Regions from separate parts of the Homo sapiens genome. Here all the other regions are linked to region 3. The links come from fine-mapping of genetic effects on gene expression. A gene starts in region 3. Each other region holds a variant in brackets. All regions are shown on one strand. Distances are from middle to middle. Region 1 has its middle 31 kb from the start of CRABP1. Region 2 has its middle 43 kb from the start of IREB2. Region 3 holds the start of CRABP1 (cellular retinoic acid binding protein 1).

What was found. PIP is the estimated chance that this variant, and not a neighbour inherited with it, causes the effect.
Region 1: its variant is fine-mapped to the expression of CRABP1 in tibial nerve (GTEx, PIP above 0.99).
Region 2: its variant is fine-mapped to the expression of CRABP1 in tibial nerve (GTEx, PIP above 0.99).

The regions. Positions count from the first base shown.
Region 1 is chr15:78,370,472-78,373,229 of GRCh38, forward strand. No RefSeq gene overlaps it. Among named protein-coding and RNA genes, the nearest start is that of CRABP1, 31 kb to the left of the region's middle. The variant A/G (reference allele first, on the strand shown) is at 1,192.
Region 2 is chr15:78,393,735-78,396,492 of GRCh38, forward strand. No RefSeq gene overlaps it. Among named protein-coding and RNA genes, the nearest start is that of IREB2, 43 kb to the right of the region's middle. RefSeq lists an enhancer at 1,843-2,343. The variant C/T (reference allele first, on the strand shown) is at 1,623.
Region 3 is chr15:78,338,692-78,341,449 of GRCh38, forward strand. CRABP1 (cellular retinoic acid binding protein 1) reads left to right here and starts at 1,662. Exons shown (of 4, transcript NM_004378.3): 1 at 1,662-1,807; 2 at 2,352-2,530. The coding sequence starts at 1,738. RefSeq lists an enhancer at 1,212-1,840.

The DNA.
Region 1 (2,758 bases), 32 kb after region 3:
GGCCTCTCATGATCCAAAAGGCCCAATGTGAAGCTGGTATGATTTCAGGAACACCCAGAGTACCAGTACACCAAATCTTCATCCCTGTGTCTGAAGTTCCATCACCAGAGCTAACAATAACAAAGGCTTTTTTTTTTTTTTTTTTTTTGAGATGGAGTATCACCATGTTGCCCGGGCTAGAGTGCAGTGGCTATTCTCAAACACAATCATATTGTACCACAGACTTGAACTCCTGGCTCAAGTAATCATCCCGCTGCAGCCTCCCAGGTAACTAGGATTAGAGGTGCATGCACTGTGCCAGGCAATAATGGCAAACATTTAACGAGTGCTTGTTTGTGGTAACAAAAAAGCCTAGTAAAGGCTGTTGCCCTTCAGTAGAGAGGTTCTCAGCTCTGATTATTAATTAGAATTCTCTGAGAGTACTAAAAATACAGGCAGCAAAGTCCCATCCAGAAGTTTCTGGGTCAAAATCCCAGAGGTAGAACCTGGGTTTCTGTATCTTTCTTCGTTTTTGTTTTTGAGAAAGGGTCTTCTTCTGTCACCCAGGCTGTAGTGCAGTGGCATGATCGTGGCTCACTGCGGCCTTAACCTCCCAGGCTCAAGCAATCCTCCTGCTTTGGCCTCCTGAGTACCTGGGACCACAGGTGTGTGCCACCATGCCTGGCTAATTTTTTTATTTTTATTTTCTGTAGAGACAGGTTTTTCCATGTTGCCCACGCTGATCTCGAACTCCTGGGCTCAAGTGATCTGCCTGCTTTGGCCTCCCAAATTGCTGGTATTCTATATCTTTTAAGTGCTTCACAGATGATTTTAATGTGCCCAAAGTTGTGTCAAAGCATAATTTTCAAAAATTTAAAAGACATAACTCTTACACAAACATATAGTGAACACAAGTGAAAGATTTTTTTAACTCATGAATGAGGGAACCCAGCAGAATGGCAAAGCTGGTTCAAAGGAAGATATTAGAAATTGAAGTAAGGTCAGTGAAAAAAGAATGCTGGCTACTTAAGATGGCAAGTAAGAATGCTGGTTACTTAAGATAGCTAAGTAACATACAAAACTGGTTAATGTCCTGCAGGACAACCAAATCACAACCTTCAGGGTTATTTTTTTGAAGTATATAGAAATTAATTGCAACATCAATTTTCTACAGTTAACATCAGTTTTTACAAAGTCTGGCCACTAATCAAC[A/G]GTAAATAGTAAGTCAGACATACTCTAAGGAGACTTTTAAAGGGCACATAATACTCCTTTTGCTTTATTTCCTAGTTTTGGATAATTTCTCTGCGTTAGGGCAAGTGGTGGTCCCTGTTAAAATGCAGGTTCCCTTGGATCAGAAATGCTTCCCACTGATTTTAGGAGTCCATTCATGCCTTTATTAGTCTGATAGACATTCCTAGAGCACCTACTGAGCACAGGGCCCTCGGGGGGCTATGGTGATGAATAGGACACTGCTGCTGCCCTCACTTGTGGTATCTAGGAGAAGGGCACAGACACAGATAATCCACACATGAGCCAGCAGGTCTGTACAAAGTGAAGTGCCCTGGGATTTAAGAGAGAAAAAAAAAAAATCTATGGAAGGGGAAAAGGGGAAGGTGCCAGTGGACCTGGGCTTAAAAGAATGGTAATATTTCTTTCCTTTTTTTTTGTTGTTTTTTTTTGTTTTGTTTTTTTGAGACAGCCTCTCACTCTGTTGCCCAGGCTGGAGTGCAGTGGCGCGATCTCAGTTCACTACAACCTCCACCTCCTGGGTTCAAGCAATTCTTCTGATTCAGCCTCCTGAGTAGTTGGGATTACAGGTGCGTGCCACCAAACACAGCTAATTTTTGTATTTTTAGTAGAGACAGTTTCGCCATGTTGGCCAGGCTGGTCTCAAACTCCTGACCTCAAGTCATCTGCCCACCTCAGCCCCCCAAAGTGCTGGGATTACAGGCGTGAGCCACTGTGCATGTCCAGTATGGTAAGATTTCAATAGGAGAACATGGGAATGAAAAGCACTCTAGGGGGGAAGGCATGGGCAAAGCCTTAGAGGCAGGAAAGCAGCAAACATGTTTAGAGGAATGGTGAGCAGCCTAACTTGATGATGCAAAGAGCTTGCTTAGTGAGAGAATGAGGTAGGACAAATAGTCAAAAATGGGATCCCAGAGTAGCTTGAATGCCAAGCTAAGGGATCTGGACTTTATCCAGTTGAAAACCAACAACTCTTGCTGGTTTGGGGACACAGATGGGCATGTTTAGCTTGTGGAGAAGGGACTGGATGGGCCTACAGGGCATGGAGGGAAGAGTCCCCATGCCCCATGACAAGAGCTTTGAACATCTCTGGGTGCAACCTGACTTTCATTTGGATCCTGCCTTTCTCTCACCTGAATAGAAGCCCTTCAGGTTTATCCCCTTTGAAATGCACTGCAAGTTTTGAGACCAGCAGAGGCAGGGGTGGAGAAGGGCCTGTGGCATGTTGCCATAGGGTGTTTGGGAAGAGAGACCCCCTTCCTCTCAGGCTTCCAAGTGCTGGACCAGGTCCCAGAGAGGCCATCACCCTATCAGGTCTTCTCCCTCTCCCTCATATAGGAGGCACTGCTTTGCCAGCCCCGCCCCTCAGACACTCCTAGCCAAGCCATCCAGGGGCGGAGCATGGGATCTGAGAATGCCAATCTTGGAGTCAGGTCAGAGTTCAATTTTTTCTTTTTTTGAGACAGAATCTTGGTATGTTGCCCAGGCTGGAGGGCAGTGGTGCGATCTCGGCTCACTGCACCCTCTGCCT
Region 2 (2,758 bases), 55 kb after region 3:
CAGTGATCATCCCACCTTGGCCTCCCAATGTGCTAGGATTACAGGCATGAGCTGCTGTGCCCGGCCTGTCCTATTTGTTATTTTCTTCCTCCCAATTCCATGAGGGCGGGGACTTAGTCTTGTTCATTGAGGAAGGAAAGAAGGAAGGAAGGAAGGAAGAAAAGGGACTTCACAGGAGCTGTCTGCCTTTTCCCCATTGTATACACAAAGCAGTAAAGCCCAGAGAGTTTAAGTGACTTGGCCAAGACCATACAGCTATTCAGTAGAGGAGGATAATCTCTCCTGCTTAATTTCTAACGAACTTGTTCCCTGAGCACATCTTGCTTTTTCCAGCCCTTCCATGGGTTTTCTTACACATTGCCGTTATCTATAAGTACCTGCAATTCTCTCCTTTCCATCTCTAGTTGAAGGGATTCTATCCTCATTCTTACAGGCACAGCTACTCCAGGAAGCCGCCTTGGGTTCCCCAGTTGGGAGTGATCTTTGCCTCCTACACACTCCCAGTTCACTTTTTCTGCCTTATAAAGGCACTTAAAAGAGTCTGCCTCATATCTAGTTGTTTGTGTGCTAGGCTTGGTGCAACCCCAGGTTAAGGGCTACATTTTCCCAACTCAATATCCCCTGTTTGCACTAGCCCCAAGAAGGGAGTGGACATATATAATCAGAATCTCTTCAGCCTCAGTCCTCCCTCTTCCCTCAAAAAACATCCATTTATACCTGAGAGCTAAGAGACAAAGCAGGGCTCAATGACAGATTATTGACCCAATACATAAAAGAATAAATGGAGGCTGGGCCTGGTGGCTCACGCCTGTAATCCCAGTACTTTGGGAGACCAAAGTAGGCTGATCACTTGAGGTCAGAAGTTCGAGCCAGCCTGGCCAACATGATGAAACCTCATCTCCACTGAAAATACAGAAATTAGCTGGGCATAGTGGTGCACGCCTGAAGTCCCAGCTCCTCGGGAGGCTGAGACACAAGAATTGCTTGAACTCGAAAGGTGGAGGTTGCAGTGAGCCAAGATTGCATCACTGCACTCCAGCCTGGGTGACAGAGTGAGGTTCTGTCTCAAAAAAAAAAAAAAAAAAAAAAAAGAATAAATGGAGAGATGACTACCTCCTACCTGTCTCTACATTAATAAATGAAGAGCTGACTACCTCCTACCTGTCTCTACATTATTCATTCCTAAAGGGCAGGGTTAGTATGTGATACTTCTTTGAAGCTTCCCATAGTACCTGTTCTGGGTTGTAGGAGGTGTTCAGTCCCTCTTTATGGAAGGCATTAAGGAAGGAATGGTACAACAAGATGTCTAGATTCATTTCAAGTTTAATTCTGATAACGCGAACAAGTAGGAAAATAGTTGTTCCCTGAGAGCCCCGCCTTTTGCCCCACAGCCCCCACCCCAGTGAGAGGGTTAGGTCCAGGACAAATGCTCCGCCTCTGAGCCCAAGTGAGGCTGGCAGACCCACAGCAGGGACACCAGAGGATGAGACCGCGGCTCTAAAGGAGACTCCACCAGGGCCAACATTAACAAGGGGAAGATGGGAGGGGCAGTATGCAAACAGACCTTCTTGAGCCTCAGTCCTCCCACCTCCCTCCAAACAGTTCTAAACAATTCAAGCACC[C/T]GCTGACAGCTGAGATGGGAGAGGCAAACCCTGGATGGGGCTTCCAGCTTGGATTTCACATAATGAGGCTTTGGAATCCGGGAAGCGATTACAAGCCCACTGGGGAGGGACCACCTACAGGTTTTGGAACCTTTCACTGCTCTACCACATGTGGCTCAACATGTCCGACTCACCAGGAAGCAGCTCTTGGATGAGAAAGAGGAAAAACACAGACACCATAACAGCACGGTTTAGAAGTCAAGGGCTTAGGAATTCCGCGATGGAGACGGGATCACGGAAGCGTGGCCTAGGGTTGGAGGAACTATGTCCTTGTTTTCAGCATTCACCAAGAGCAGGGATTGAGGAGGGTCCAGAACCTACCCTAGCAACCCCACATGGTCACACAAGTCCCAGCCACCAGCCAGCATGTGTTTATTCAATTTTTTTTTCACTGACAAAAATTGTCAAAAATTGGACATGTTTATTGATTTTATTAGTAGCTATTTTCAAATCGTGGAGCTGGAAAGAACTTGGGTTTTACAACTGAGTGGTCTCATTTACAGATGACACCACCAAGGCAGAGAGAGGGAAGGTGGGTTCCCTGGGATCACACAGGCTGGGAGGGGTGCTCAACCAGGCCTAGGTTTCAGGTCCTCTCCCTGGTACCATCTGTTAGTCCACTCTGCTATTCTCACTCAAGTTAGAGCCAGGAAGGAACCAAACCAGCCTAGAATCCCATCCACTCATTTCTTTCTTTCTTTTCTTTTTCTTTTTTTTTGAGACAGAGTCTCACCCTGTTGCCCAGGCTAGAGCACAGTGGCGGGATCTCAGCTCAATGCAACCTCTGCCTCCCAGGTTCAAGCAGTTCTCCTGCTTCAGCCTCCTGAGTAGCTGGGACTGCAGGCATGCACCACCACACCTGGCTAATTTTTGCATTTTTAGTGGAGATGGGGTTTCGTCATGTTGGCCAGCCTGGTCTCGAACTCCCGACCTCAAGTGATCCACCTGCCTTGGCCCCTCAAACTGCTGGAATTACAGGTGTGAACTACTGTGCCCGGCCCAAATCACTCATTTATTGTCTGAAGAGCTGAGCCGTGTGAAGCCCAGCCCCTTGGAGGGTGCTGGGGTTGGATGGGGGTAACCAGTAAGACCCCTGC
Region 3 (2,758 bases):
AGAGCGAGACTCTGTCTCAAAACAAACAAACAAACAAAAAGTATTCTGACGTTCAAGCTGGCAATAGCAGAGCATTCCTGCTTTTCCATTTTCCAATCTAACTATCAGGCCCTTCTAAGTGCATGGCCCTGTGTGACTGCACAGACGGCACGTCCAGAATGCCGGCCCTGCCCATGCCCCTTTCCAGCTGGTGATGGCCCCACTCCCCTCTCCTGTCCTCAGCTGCTTTCTTAGACAGATCCTCGGAGCCTCCTGGCAGCAACCCAGCCCCAGCCACCTCCAGAAGTTTCCAGGGCCCTGTTCAGTAGGCACTCAGCACAGATTCCCCAAGGTCCTGGGGGAATCTTCACCCCAGGCCACCACTCACATCCTCCTCAAATCAATGCACAGTTATCGAGCCCCACCTGGCTAAGCCTTAGGAAGGGAGGACAAGTGGATAAACGATCACTGCCCTCCAGGAGTTCAGTTTATAGCAGAGCGAAGACTTGAACAAGAGCAGGACCGGACAAGAATCCTGTCAATTCAGAGAAAAATAATCACAGTTTATTAGGAAACTGAATTTCACAAAAGAGAGAGCATAAAGATGGGCTTTCGTGAATGGGCAAGATTTGATTAACCCGATGAGGAAAGGGGCATTCAAGGAAGAAGCCATGGCATGGGCAAAAACTTAGAGATAATAAAATGCATGGCACGTTCTAGAATCCTGAATTGTACAGTTTGGCTGAGGTGTGCAGATGGTAAAATAGTGGGAAAAAGCTGGAAGGAAAATGTACAGAGAAGAGCTACAAGGGTAATAGTGAAGTGTTTGTACTCCCTTAGTGGAAACACCGAGGGGACTTTAGGTCGTGATGTTTAGGTTATTTGGGAGCAAAGGGAGAAGACTTCCTCCCCTTGGCCCTCACAGCCTGCCCGAAGAGTGCAAAGCCTCACGCTTTTGCAAAACAGGCCGCACCTAGCCCAGATTCTGGAGCTGATTCAGTCCATGCCTCTCGACCCACAGTTTGTCCTGAGCCCTGACAAAGGTCTGGCCCCCTCCTGCACTCGGAACGCGGAGGACCCGCAGCTCGTGGATTCGCGCCTCAGTGCCCAAGCTGGTGTTGATGGGGGTTGCGGTTTCCTGCCACTCACTCCCCATGGGTCCTGTGGGGGGCGTGGGGATGCGGGGAGAGGGTTTCAGAATAGGATCCCGGACTGGGAGGGAAGGGACACCATCTGGGCACACCCAGTAGGTACGACCGGAGGTGAAAAAAGAGTGGGTCCCATCCCCTGATGGCCCCGCTCGCTATCCACTTTAAGTTTATGTTATGGATATTTTCAAACATATTCAAAAGTAGAGAGAAAAGTAGAATCATAACCCAAGTCCACACCGCCCAGCTTCAACAGTTATCCCCTCCAAGCCCATCTTGTTTCAGCTAACCCTCTCCCACCACCCATTTTAAAGCGGGATGTGGGTGTCCTGAGGGAGGTGGAGGCTCCCCAGTTGGAGAGCGGGTGCCCGCACCTCTGGAGGCTGAGGCACAACTGGGCTGGGAGTTGAGCGCATACCGAGTAGGGGCTGCGGGGGAGCGGGGGCAGGGCCGGCGGGGCGGGGCCAGAAGCCCGGCGGGGTTGGGGGCGCTCTCCTAGTGACTCAAGGCGCGCAGCGCTGGGCGCAAAGCGCCAGTCTCCGCCTTGCGAGCTCAGAGTGTGCCCGCTGCGCCGCCGCTGTCCGTACCTGCCGCCGCCGCCACCGCCACCATGCCCAACTTCGCCGGCACCTGGAAGATGCGCAGCAGCGAGAATTTCGACGAGCTGCTCAAGGCACTGGGTAAGCTGGTGCAGAGGGCGCGCCCCGACGGGGAGATGCGGCCCGGAGGTGCCCTGGTCCCGGAAGTGCCCCGGTCCTGGAGGGGGTGGAAGTTGGGGAGCCCAGGCAGGAGGGAGTCCCCGGGGCAATAGATCGCCTTGTCTCCCAGGCGCACCGGGTCTCGGAGAAGCTGGTAGAGATCCCGGAACCCACGCGTTCAGCGAACGTTTGCTGAATGTTTGGCGCCCTCCTCGATGGTGCGGACTTTATCTCGTGCTAGATCATAGCGAGGAGAGATTACTGGAGAGCAAGGAGGATCAGGGACTTAAATTTGGAGACTCAAATTTGGGACCAGGCTCTGCCACGAATTCACTGTGCAACTCGAGGAAAGTCACTTACCCTCTCTGTGCCTCAGTCTCTCATCTCGAAAACAAGGGCGAGGGCAGGGAAACGAGTGGATCAATTTTAAGGCCCCTTTCTAAAGTTAGGGTATGACCAGTGCCCGACCGGTCCCGAGACTGGCGGCGAGGCCCCGTGACCCAAGCCTGTGGTGCACCCTGCGCAGGTGTGAACGCCATGCTGAGGAAAGTGGCCGTAGCGGCTGCGTCCAAGCCGCACGTGGAGATCCGCCAGGACGGGGATCAGTTCTACATCAAGACATCCACCACGGTGCGCACCACTGAGATCAACTTCAAGGTCGGAGAAGGCTTTGAGGAGGAGACCGTGGACGGACGCAAGTGCAGGGTGAGGCCCCAGAGCCACTACAGCGTCCCCGTGTCCCCGCTCGGTGCCCATGGCCCACTGCTGCTGGAGGAACCTGTGTCTCCCTTTGCAGCCTGTGGCGCGCCTTCCTTGCAGGGTGTGTACACTGGCTGTTTGCAGAGGGGGTTTGTGCATCCTAGTTGCCCCTGGCTCAAGACAAAGTATTACCTTCATTCCATCTCAACCCCATCCCTACGCTGCCTCCCGGGG